Regions from separate parts of the Homo sapiens genome. Here region 2 is linked to region 1. The links come from fine-mapping of genetic effects on gene expression. A gene starts in region 1. The other region holds a variant in brackets. All regions are shown on one strand. Distances are from middle to middle. Region 1 holds the start of MXI1 (MAX interactor 1, dimerization protein). Region 2 overlaps MXI1 (MAX interactor 1, dimerization protein).

Evidence for each region. PIP is the estimated chance that this variant, and not a neighbour inherited with it, causes the effect.
Region 2: its variant is fine-mapped to the expression of MXI1 in T cells (TOPMed, PIP 0.96).

What each region holds. Positions count from the first base shown.
Region 1 is chr10:110,205,037-110,209,427 of GRCh38, forward strand. It overlaps MXI1 (MAX interactor 1, dimerization protein), which reads left to right and starts at 2,569. Exons shown (of 6, transcript NM_130439.3): 1 at 2,569-3,046. The coding sequence starts at 2,773. RefSeq lists an enhancer at 650-1,150 and a silencer at 2,740-2,819.
Region 2 is chr10:110,267,471-110,271,861 of GRCh38, forward strand. All of the region lies in intron 3 of MXI1 (MAX interactor 1, dimerization protein), which reads left to right. Among named protein-coding and RNA genes, the nearest start is that of SMNDC1, 35 kb to the right of the region's middle. The variant G/A (reference allele first, on the strand shown) is at 2,072.

The DNA.
Region 1 (4,391 bases):
CACCACTCTTTCTGTTGGGGCCAACTTTATTAGAGAAATCTGTTAATTGGGGAACGGAGCGGGAGAAGGGAGAGAGCAATGGGATGTTAATATGATTTAACACTTGATGGGCTCTGAAAACAAATAAGGAGGGGGCTTCGGGCTTTAGCTTGGCACATTCGTCGTTCCACATACGTGTTACCAAAATGAATATATGCAACTAAACTATATGCGAGACTCTGGGGGCACAGTAACACAGACTTTGTGAAACAAAAAGGCATTTCTCCTGCTTCCACTGTGTCTCTTGTGGTGCCATTGTCTGATGCTAAGAACTCACATAATAACAAAAAACAATGCCCCTATGATGGGGGGAAAACTTGATTTGGCACCAGCCGTGGTGTTTTCCATGGGAATGATGGTGGGGGCTGTGGCCGACTGTGGGAATAGTGCAAATCAGCACTTTTTTGTAGATTTTCTTCAAGCCATTGTTTATTTTGGCTTTGGTCAGATCCGTGGCCCAGCTTGAAGATTCCCACTGGGCTTTCTGAAACTCGCAGACCTATGAGAGATGGAACAGGGATAAATAAATAATTACAAAACACCCTTCCCCCACCATGGCACTCATGCATGCGTGTGCCTGTCTTGGTGGTGCATGTATGTTGCAGTACTATACATCTGACCCATGCCACCAATGGGCAATTAAAGAGAAAGCAAGGTTTTCTCTGGGCTTAGCTGGTTCATTGTCTCAGTACCATCTTTCATTTGGGGCAAGAGAGATCAGAGCTGTTTCACACAAGGGCCAGTTTTTGCAAAATGGCATTGGAGAAAGCTTGTTTGAAACTGTGCATACATGAGGTCTTCCTAACATTTTTAGATGTTTACAGGCATTTCAACACGAATAACTCAGGTTGTGGTTCTCACAGAAGCAAAAAATCAGTAATTGTTCTAATAATGGAAGATAAACTTTTTTTTTTTTTTTTTTTGAGACGGAGTCTGGCTCTGTCGCCCAGGCTGGAGTGCAGTGGCGCTATCTCGGCTCACTACAAGCTCCGCCTCCCGGGTTCACGCCATTCTCCTGCCTCAGCCTCCGGAGTAGCTGGGATTACAGGCATGCGCCACCACGCCCGGCTAATTTTGTATTTTTGGTAGAGACAGCGTTTCTCTATGTTGGTCAGGCTGGTCGCGAACTCCCAACCTCAGGTGATCTGCCCGCTTTGGCCTCCCAAAGTGCTGGGATTACAGGCGTGAGCCACTGCGTCCGGCCATCAAGAGTTTTTATGACAATGTGTATGAAGCTGCCTTTGAGTAGGGTGGCTGCATCGCACACCTCCAGGGGGCAGCATTGTCTTTGTCCTCTATATAAATGGTTCCCCTGGAGGAAAACTCCAGGTGACCTTGCAAAGTAACCATATTTAGATGGGCTTGTCATAGAGATATTTTCCAAGGAAGTGCAGAAGAGTCTTGTTCACTACATCTTGTTCCTTTCTTAGATACAAGTTACATCAGAATAGGGGACTCAGGCTCTTGCCTGGGTCTGGATTGGAAGAAAAAGAGCTTACCATGGGCCAGAGTGTGCTAAGTCAGATACAATACACAAGCATCTTATCACACATTTCAATGATGTGGAAACTTAGGCCAAGAGAGGTTAAGGGACTTGTCCAAGCTCACACAGTCTGTATGCAGCAGAGCTGGGATTTGAACCCTTTCCTATGGCACCCTAGAGCAGCCTTCAATCATCCCCTGACACCTCCAGTACTTCCCAGGGCTGGAAAGCATCCATGATTGCGGACAGCAGTGGCAGTGAAACAATGTCAGCTGGGGTAGGGGTTTTCAGAGGCAAAAGGTGGAATTCAGCTGGGGAGGGGGGTGGTTCCTGAGCTGCCACTTCTGCCTCTCAAATTAAAGGGAGCCAGGTGTGGAGGCATCCTGGTGTGAGCTTTGCACAGCTGAACCAAGGCTGGGCAGAGGAGTGTGGAGAGGGATGCTGACATCTCCTCCCACTTCTGGAAAATAACTTTGCATTTGAAGGGAGAAAGGCATGAGTAAATCTGTAACTCGGATTTGGACGGCCTGGGATTTCATTTGACTGTGTGAAGGCACACACAGGTGCCTCGCAAGTGTGTGCGTGATTACGTATGTATGTGTGTCTGTGAGTAGGAGTGTTTGTGTTGGGGGTGGGGGGATCTTCTGGTTACACACTGGTTCCCTTCTTCCCATTTGGATTGGGGAGCTTTTATTTATTTATTTTTAAGTCATAGCAGCCACCATGTATGGGGACCTAACTATGTGCCAGGCATTGTGCTGGACACTTTCTGAGGCATTATTTTTCTGTGAAAAAAGTAGTTTGTTTTTATGCAGGTGCACCCAGAGACATCAGGTATTTTTTTCCATTCCGGTTAAAAGACAGTGTTCTACTCTGTGGTAAGCCTTGGGGAGAGGCAGGGAAGCCTGCGGGGACGGGCAGGGGCGGTCCCTGCCTCGCTCGCTAGTCTCCACCTTTTATTTTGACCGGTCCGATGGCGACAGGCTCGCACTAGGACCCAGGCGCCAGAGTGCCTCCGTCTGTCCTGTAGGTTCATTCAATCTCCCATACACACAGACTCACAGCGAGACCGACACACACTCCCATACACTCACACACACAACTGCAGGCAGCGAGGCTCGGGAAGTCAGGCCGGCTTTTCGCCCCGGCGCCTTCTCTGCTCCAGCCGGCCGGGTCTCCCTGGGGGCCCGGAGCTCGGCCGGGCCGCGCAGCCCCGTTAGAGGACGAGCTCGGCGGACCCCCGCTCCTCCATGGGCAAACGCGGGCGGCCGCGCAAGGAGGCGCGCTGCGAGGGCGCGGGGCTGGCCCCCGCCGCGCCCCCGGCTGTGCCCCCCGCCGTGGCCGCGCCCCAGCCCCCGGCCCTGCCCGAGGACCCCGCTGGGGCCAAGCCCAGGTGCCCCTTCTCAGACATTTTCAACACCAGCGAGAACTCGATGGAGAAGCACATCAACACTTTTCTGCAGAACGTGCAGATTCTGCTCGAGGCCGCCAGCTACCTGGAGCAGATCGAGAAAGAAAACAAAAGTAAGTTTGGGGGCCCCTGCTCTTCCTCGGCGCCCGGTTCTTTCTTTCTCGCCCACTTGGGCGACCCCTGTTGCGAGCTCGGCCCGTCCCCCCCCCGCCCAACATACACATCCAGCCCTTGGCAGTAAAGCCGATGACACCGGAGAAAGGACACGCACGCACAAAGCTGCTAAAGATGTAACAAAGACGGGCGAGGGGGAGAGGGGCCTGTCGGTGCGTCGGTCTGTCCTCTCCGGCGGGCTGGGGCTGGGAGGATGGCCCAGCGGAGGAGCGGGGGAGTGTTGTTGTTTGCTGACAACTGAGCCGAGAGCTCATCTCTTTGAGGTCGCTTTTCTTCCTTTTTTTTTTTTTTTTTTCCGGAGCCTTCTCAGGCAGACAAGTGTTGTTTTTCTGTTGCTCGTTCCTGGGTGGGGTGGGGATTAGAAGCCGAAAGTTGGAAACCATAGGCAGAGCTCAGAGGTTCCAGAAAGAAAACACACAGACACACACTACAACAATAACAACCAAACAGCTCTCCACGGCGTGGGCTCGGCTCTGTCTCTCTCTCTCCCTCCTACTTCGCCTTTTTCCTTCCCTCTAGCAGCAGGACTGGGCTCAGGCCATCACGTCTACGGACACAGTCCCCCTGCACGTCCGTTGCCGTGGGGTGCCACCGCCGCCCCCCCCCCCCCAAAGAAGGAGGCCGGCGGGGCCAAGCAACGCCAGCAGCTCGCCCCGGACACGCCGTCCTGAGCCCGGGAAACTTGGCCGTGGGGACGCGGCTAGAAGGAAACTTTGGGATCTTTGAGAAACAATAGTTGGGGAAGAAGGTGTGGGCTGTTCTGTGCTTTTTCTTTATTTTCCGGGAGACGGCTCTTGAGTGAGCGCACAGGGCAAGCAAGGCAAACGCCTTCCTGGTCGATTTCTACTCCCCCCACCCGCCCACCCCCAGATTCACGTGGATAGTAGTGCGTGGGTGGGGGTGTGCTGGGAACCCCACCCTGGCCTGGCTTCTTTTTTGTATTTATTTGTTTCATTTTTGCCCCTACCAGCCAGGTCACCCAGCTTTCCCCAGGCAGTCGACTCAGCGCCCTAACGGGGGCACGCGTGTGCAGCGTATCCAGCACCGTCCTCAGAATAATAGCTGTGAAAAGGAGGAAGGGAACTAGGCAGACAGACCGACAGATAGGGGGAAACCGGGATGTTTAATGTGTCCGAACAAGTAGGAAGATCAATGAGGCGCGAGTGTGTGTGTGTACGTGTGCGCGTGTGTGTGTGAGAGAGAGAGAAAGAAAGAAGAAAGGTCCCGATTGCAACGTGTCAGATCTTGCAACCTTCCCCCCACCCAACACAACAACCCTCAGAC
Region 2 (4,391 bases), 62 kb after region 1:
AGAATTGTAATGTTTGTAGGCTTTTTCCATCTTGATTCACTTTATTCCAGCCTGATTCACAATTATTCCTTTACAGAACAGCTTGTATTCGACAAAGCTGTGAAAAAAATCACTCTTCTCTAAATAAGGTTCTTTTTTTGATTAGAAATCCCATCTTTGCAGTTAAAACATTTGTAAACATAACACAATTTAGATAGAGCTGATTGACTTTTCAAGACTGCTATTTTTATAATGGAAAAGAATTTTTCTTAAAGAAGCAATTTGGTGATGGGGCCCTTAGAATGTCCTTGAAAACAGCTGGAATTTACTGCTAGCATATATTGGGTCAGATGAATGAGGGAGCATGGGTTTGGCTGATTTGCAATGTTCAAGAAATATTGATATTCTTAGAAGACAATACAGAATATATGTTGGGTCTTATTTTCCAAAATGTCAAAGTGTCCTTCATATGCCTTTTGTTCTGTGAGATAACAGTTGTTGGTGATCCTGAAAGATGTTTTAGAACTTTCATCCTGCAGTATCTGAAAGGAAATGTAGCCAAGATTGGAAAATTTAACCTCCATACTCTACTGGCTTCTTTAGTTGGAGTAGTGGTCAATATGTTCTTGCTGTTGGAATATACTTAGGCGAGAGAGCCACACAACCTGCCTGATGAACAACTAAAATATTGACTGGCAATGGTAACAAAATAAAACATGTTCCCCTCCACCTGTCTCTTCCTTCTTTTCTCAAATCCCTGGAACTGTATAGATTTTTCAGGGCTGTTCTCCTGAGCTATTGATGAAATGAAAATAATAGCACTTGTGTAGCAGTCCTTAGAAAACTGTAATGGTATTGAGCTGAGGCTGGAATCATATAAAATAAATACTAGAGCTTTGATTCCTCTCTCATTTAATCTTTTCCTGGGCTTTTCTAGAGGAGAGTCAAACTAAGATTTAGACAAATATAAATAGAAGCAAGTCACACAGTGTAATGTTGCAACCCAGATATAACTTGAACCCAGTCTTTTACTTGATAAAGAGGAGATAATTGTAATTGTTGTTAATCTATCAAACACCTTTCCCTTTTCAGAAGGGTTTTAAAAAATAAAGTAGTTCTTAAGGCATGTTCACTTTCTATCTACCTAAAAGTGCTAATCTGTAAGTGCCCTACTATATATAACACTGAGAAAATTTCTGCCTTATCAGAGGAGGGCATGCCCAGGATTGGTGCCAGGTGTTGTGTTATGCTAGGCTGCCTCCAAAAGTTACTCTCAAAAACTACTCTTCAGTTGGGCCCTTTGTGGTCAGGAAAAAAAAAAAGTGATACAGTATAATGAAAGAGAGGTCAAAACAGTTAAGTAATTTAGAAATAAAAAGACATACCAAAACATTGATTCTCTATTATTATCAGGGACTATGGCGTATTTTAAATTCTGTAAATTTTATTTTTCCAGAGGTTGCAAATGGCCTGTAAATGCTTCAGTTATTAACAACAACAACAACACATACACACATACACACTGGCCAACAATTCCTCTTTGTTACCCTTTTTCTACTGCAAATTTTATCTCCTCCTCACCAAAAAACAAACTGCATTTTGATTTTGGGAAAATTGTTCTAAAATGGGACTTTAAAAATAATTCCTGGCTGGCTTGACTGGATTGGCAGATGTCCAGCAATGCCAAACCATTTGCCATCTGCCAGTAGTAAGCATGGTTACCACTTTTAATCGTTTAGCTCTCTATTTCAGGTTGCTCATATTCAGTACAAATTATGAATATTCGCCTTCCAGGGATGAATTAATTCTTGGGCCAGATTGTTCCTGTTCCATTTAATAAAATGTCTTTCCTCCTATATGAATATTCCCCTTAAAATGAGCTATTATACAACTCACATCTTATTAGTAGGGCCACTTTTAAAGGTGCTTTGCTATTTTCATTTTCTGCTTCTAGATGAACAGCTATATTACAAAGCATTCTTTAAATGTGCTGTTTTGTGCTATGTAAGATCACCATTTTAATTAGAGATCAGTAACAGTATTTCGTCATTTCCCTCTTCCATCCTGGACAATAATTTGATACAATAAAGCA[G/A]TTACACTGGGCTCTGGGTGGGAATAGAGCTGTGAGAGTTAGACTTAAACTTTTGTAGAAGAGAAGACTTAATTCTTGCATTTTGTACATAAAATTAGGTCAGTGTCTTGTAGAACATTATCACTGCGTCTCAGATCTCACTTGCCAGCACGTAGGAAGTTTGTTTTGGTTTCAAAATGTACTTTACCCCATGGTGGCTGGCAGGGTACAATACTATTGACATCACTGTGTTTCAAATAGAAAGTTAACAAGTAGCTACTGTTGTGATTGCAGATTGCCTTCCCAGTCCCTGTGAGAGAATGCTTTTTCTTTTGGACAGCAACACTTCTCAGCCCCTTGGTACCATTAAATCAGCCAATGGGGGCTGCCAGAATAGAGATGAACACCAACAAAAGGCCAAAGAGTAGAAAAACTGTTAATAAGGCAAAAATCTTTAATCAGTTTCCAAATTGATGTGAAAGATAATTAAAAAATATTCTCTCCCATCGATGGCTAAGTTTTGACAGTAGTCCAGGTTCAGAGCCTGATCTCTCTAGAGAGGAGTATCCCTTCCCTCTACCCAGACCCCTGGAAAGTTGCCAAAGGAAAATAAGCTATTTTGTATTTAGAACAAATTGCCACTGTTTTCTCCAGTGATGTAGCCCTATTTCCCAGACTTTGAAACTTGGAATACAGAAAGTTCTTGTGTGACCAAAGAAGAAATATGGTGAATGAATGATCAAGTTTTTCTTTTTAACTAAATCCTTATAAACAGATAAGAGAGGGGAAGTATGCATAGAAACTAAATTTAGCACAGAATGGATGTCAAGTGAGCAATTTCTGTTAAATCACTTTGGAGTTTGGGTTCCTTGTGGGAGTTCCAGTGAAGAACAAATGCCTCTGGAACAAGATTTAATTATTTTTTTTTTTTTCAAATGAGGCTGTCAAAAATGAAGTCTTCCTTAGACATGAATGCAGGATAATTAAAAAAAATAGTTGTTTATATGTTCTGCACTATAGTCTTCAACTTAGCAAGCAGTCCATGGATCTGGTAAGCATACACTAGTTTCTCATTTATTACATGGGATTAAGAACTGTTGACTTAATTTTTTTCTTCTTTGCATTGTGGAATATTGCTTTTTAGACTTTCCCTTCTCATACCTTGGTTTTCTTAGCTGTTTGTTTTCCTAGTCCTAGGCCCCTTTCACTGTAAATACTTTGATAAAGTCATTCTGTTGTAAAAGCTGCAGTTCTTAAACCCTTTGCTTCACTATTAAAAAAGGTGTTGGCCGGTTGCGGTGGCTCATGCCTATAATCCTAGCACTTTGGGAGGCCGAGGCGGGCAGATTGCCTGAGCTCAGGAGTCCGAAACCACCCTGGGCAATATGGTGAAACCCCGTCTCTAGTAAAATAAAATAAAAAAAAATTAGGCTTGGTGGCACATGCCTGTAATCCCAGCTACTCAGGAGGCTGAGGCAGGATAATTGCTTGAGCCTGGGAGGCGGAGGTTGCAGTGAGCCGAGATCGCGCCACTGCACTCCAGCTTGGGCAACAGAGTGAAACTACGTCTCAAAAAAAAAAAAAAGTGTTGACTCTCATCAAGAGTTAGGTTGGAGACTGTTGGTTACTCTACATGTAGACATCTTTGGTGGTATGCACCTTATTAACATTTGCTGGTGATTTCAGCTGCACCAGAAAAAAAAAAGGTTAAGAGTTCTGGCATTCATAAATAGATCTCTCACAAATGCTGGCCTGGCATCTGATTATACTGTTTGGAGGTCCTGGTGTTGATTGTTACCTCAACTTTGGTGAGTTAGAGAGTCCCAGAAACATCCACTAGAAGTATTACATCTCTCCTCCCCACTGTGTGCCAGTCATTCTGTTTATTTGAAAAACAGAAATGACTAAAAGTATGGATTCACTCTCAATTGAAATACAGTGTGATTAGTATGAAATCAAGTATCATCTGAGGAAGGAGTATGGCAAGGATGATCTTGTGGAAGAAATTGTTTGGCCATGGCCTGAAAATGAGTTAGATGCCCACCAGGTGGACATTTGGAGAGAATGCATTCCAGGTAGAGATATTGGCAAGTATAAAAGCACATTTGGTTATGGAAGAGGTTTGCAAGGGTATGAGTTATGGGAAATGAGGCTGGAAAGGTGGTAGGCAGAGGACTAAATTATAGTCTTCAAACAGGTAAAGATTATACTACTGACAACTTGAAAAATCGTTATAGCATTTAGCTCAGTGGTATAATAAGGCACTATTGTTTACTGATGATAATTGTTATTGACTGAGTGGCACTTCATGTTCTTCATATTTCTGAGTTGTAAAGACTAA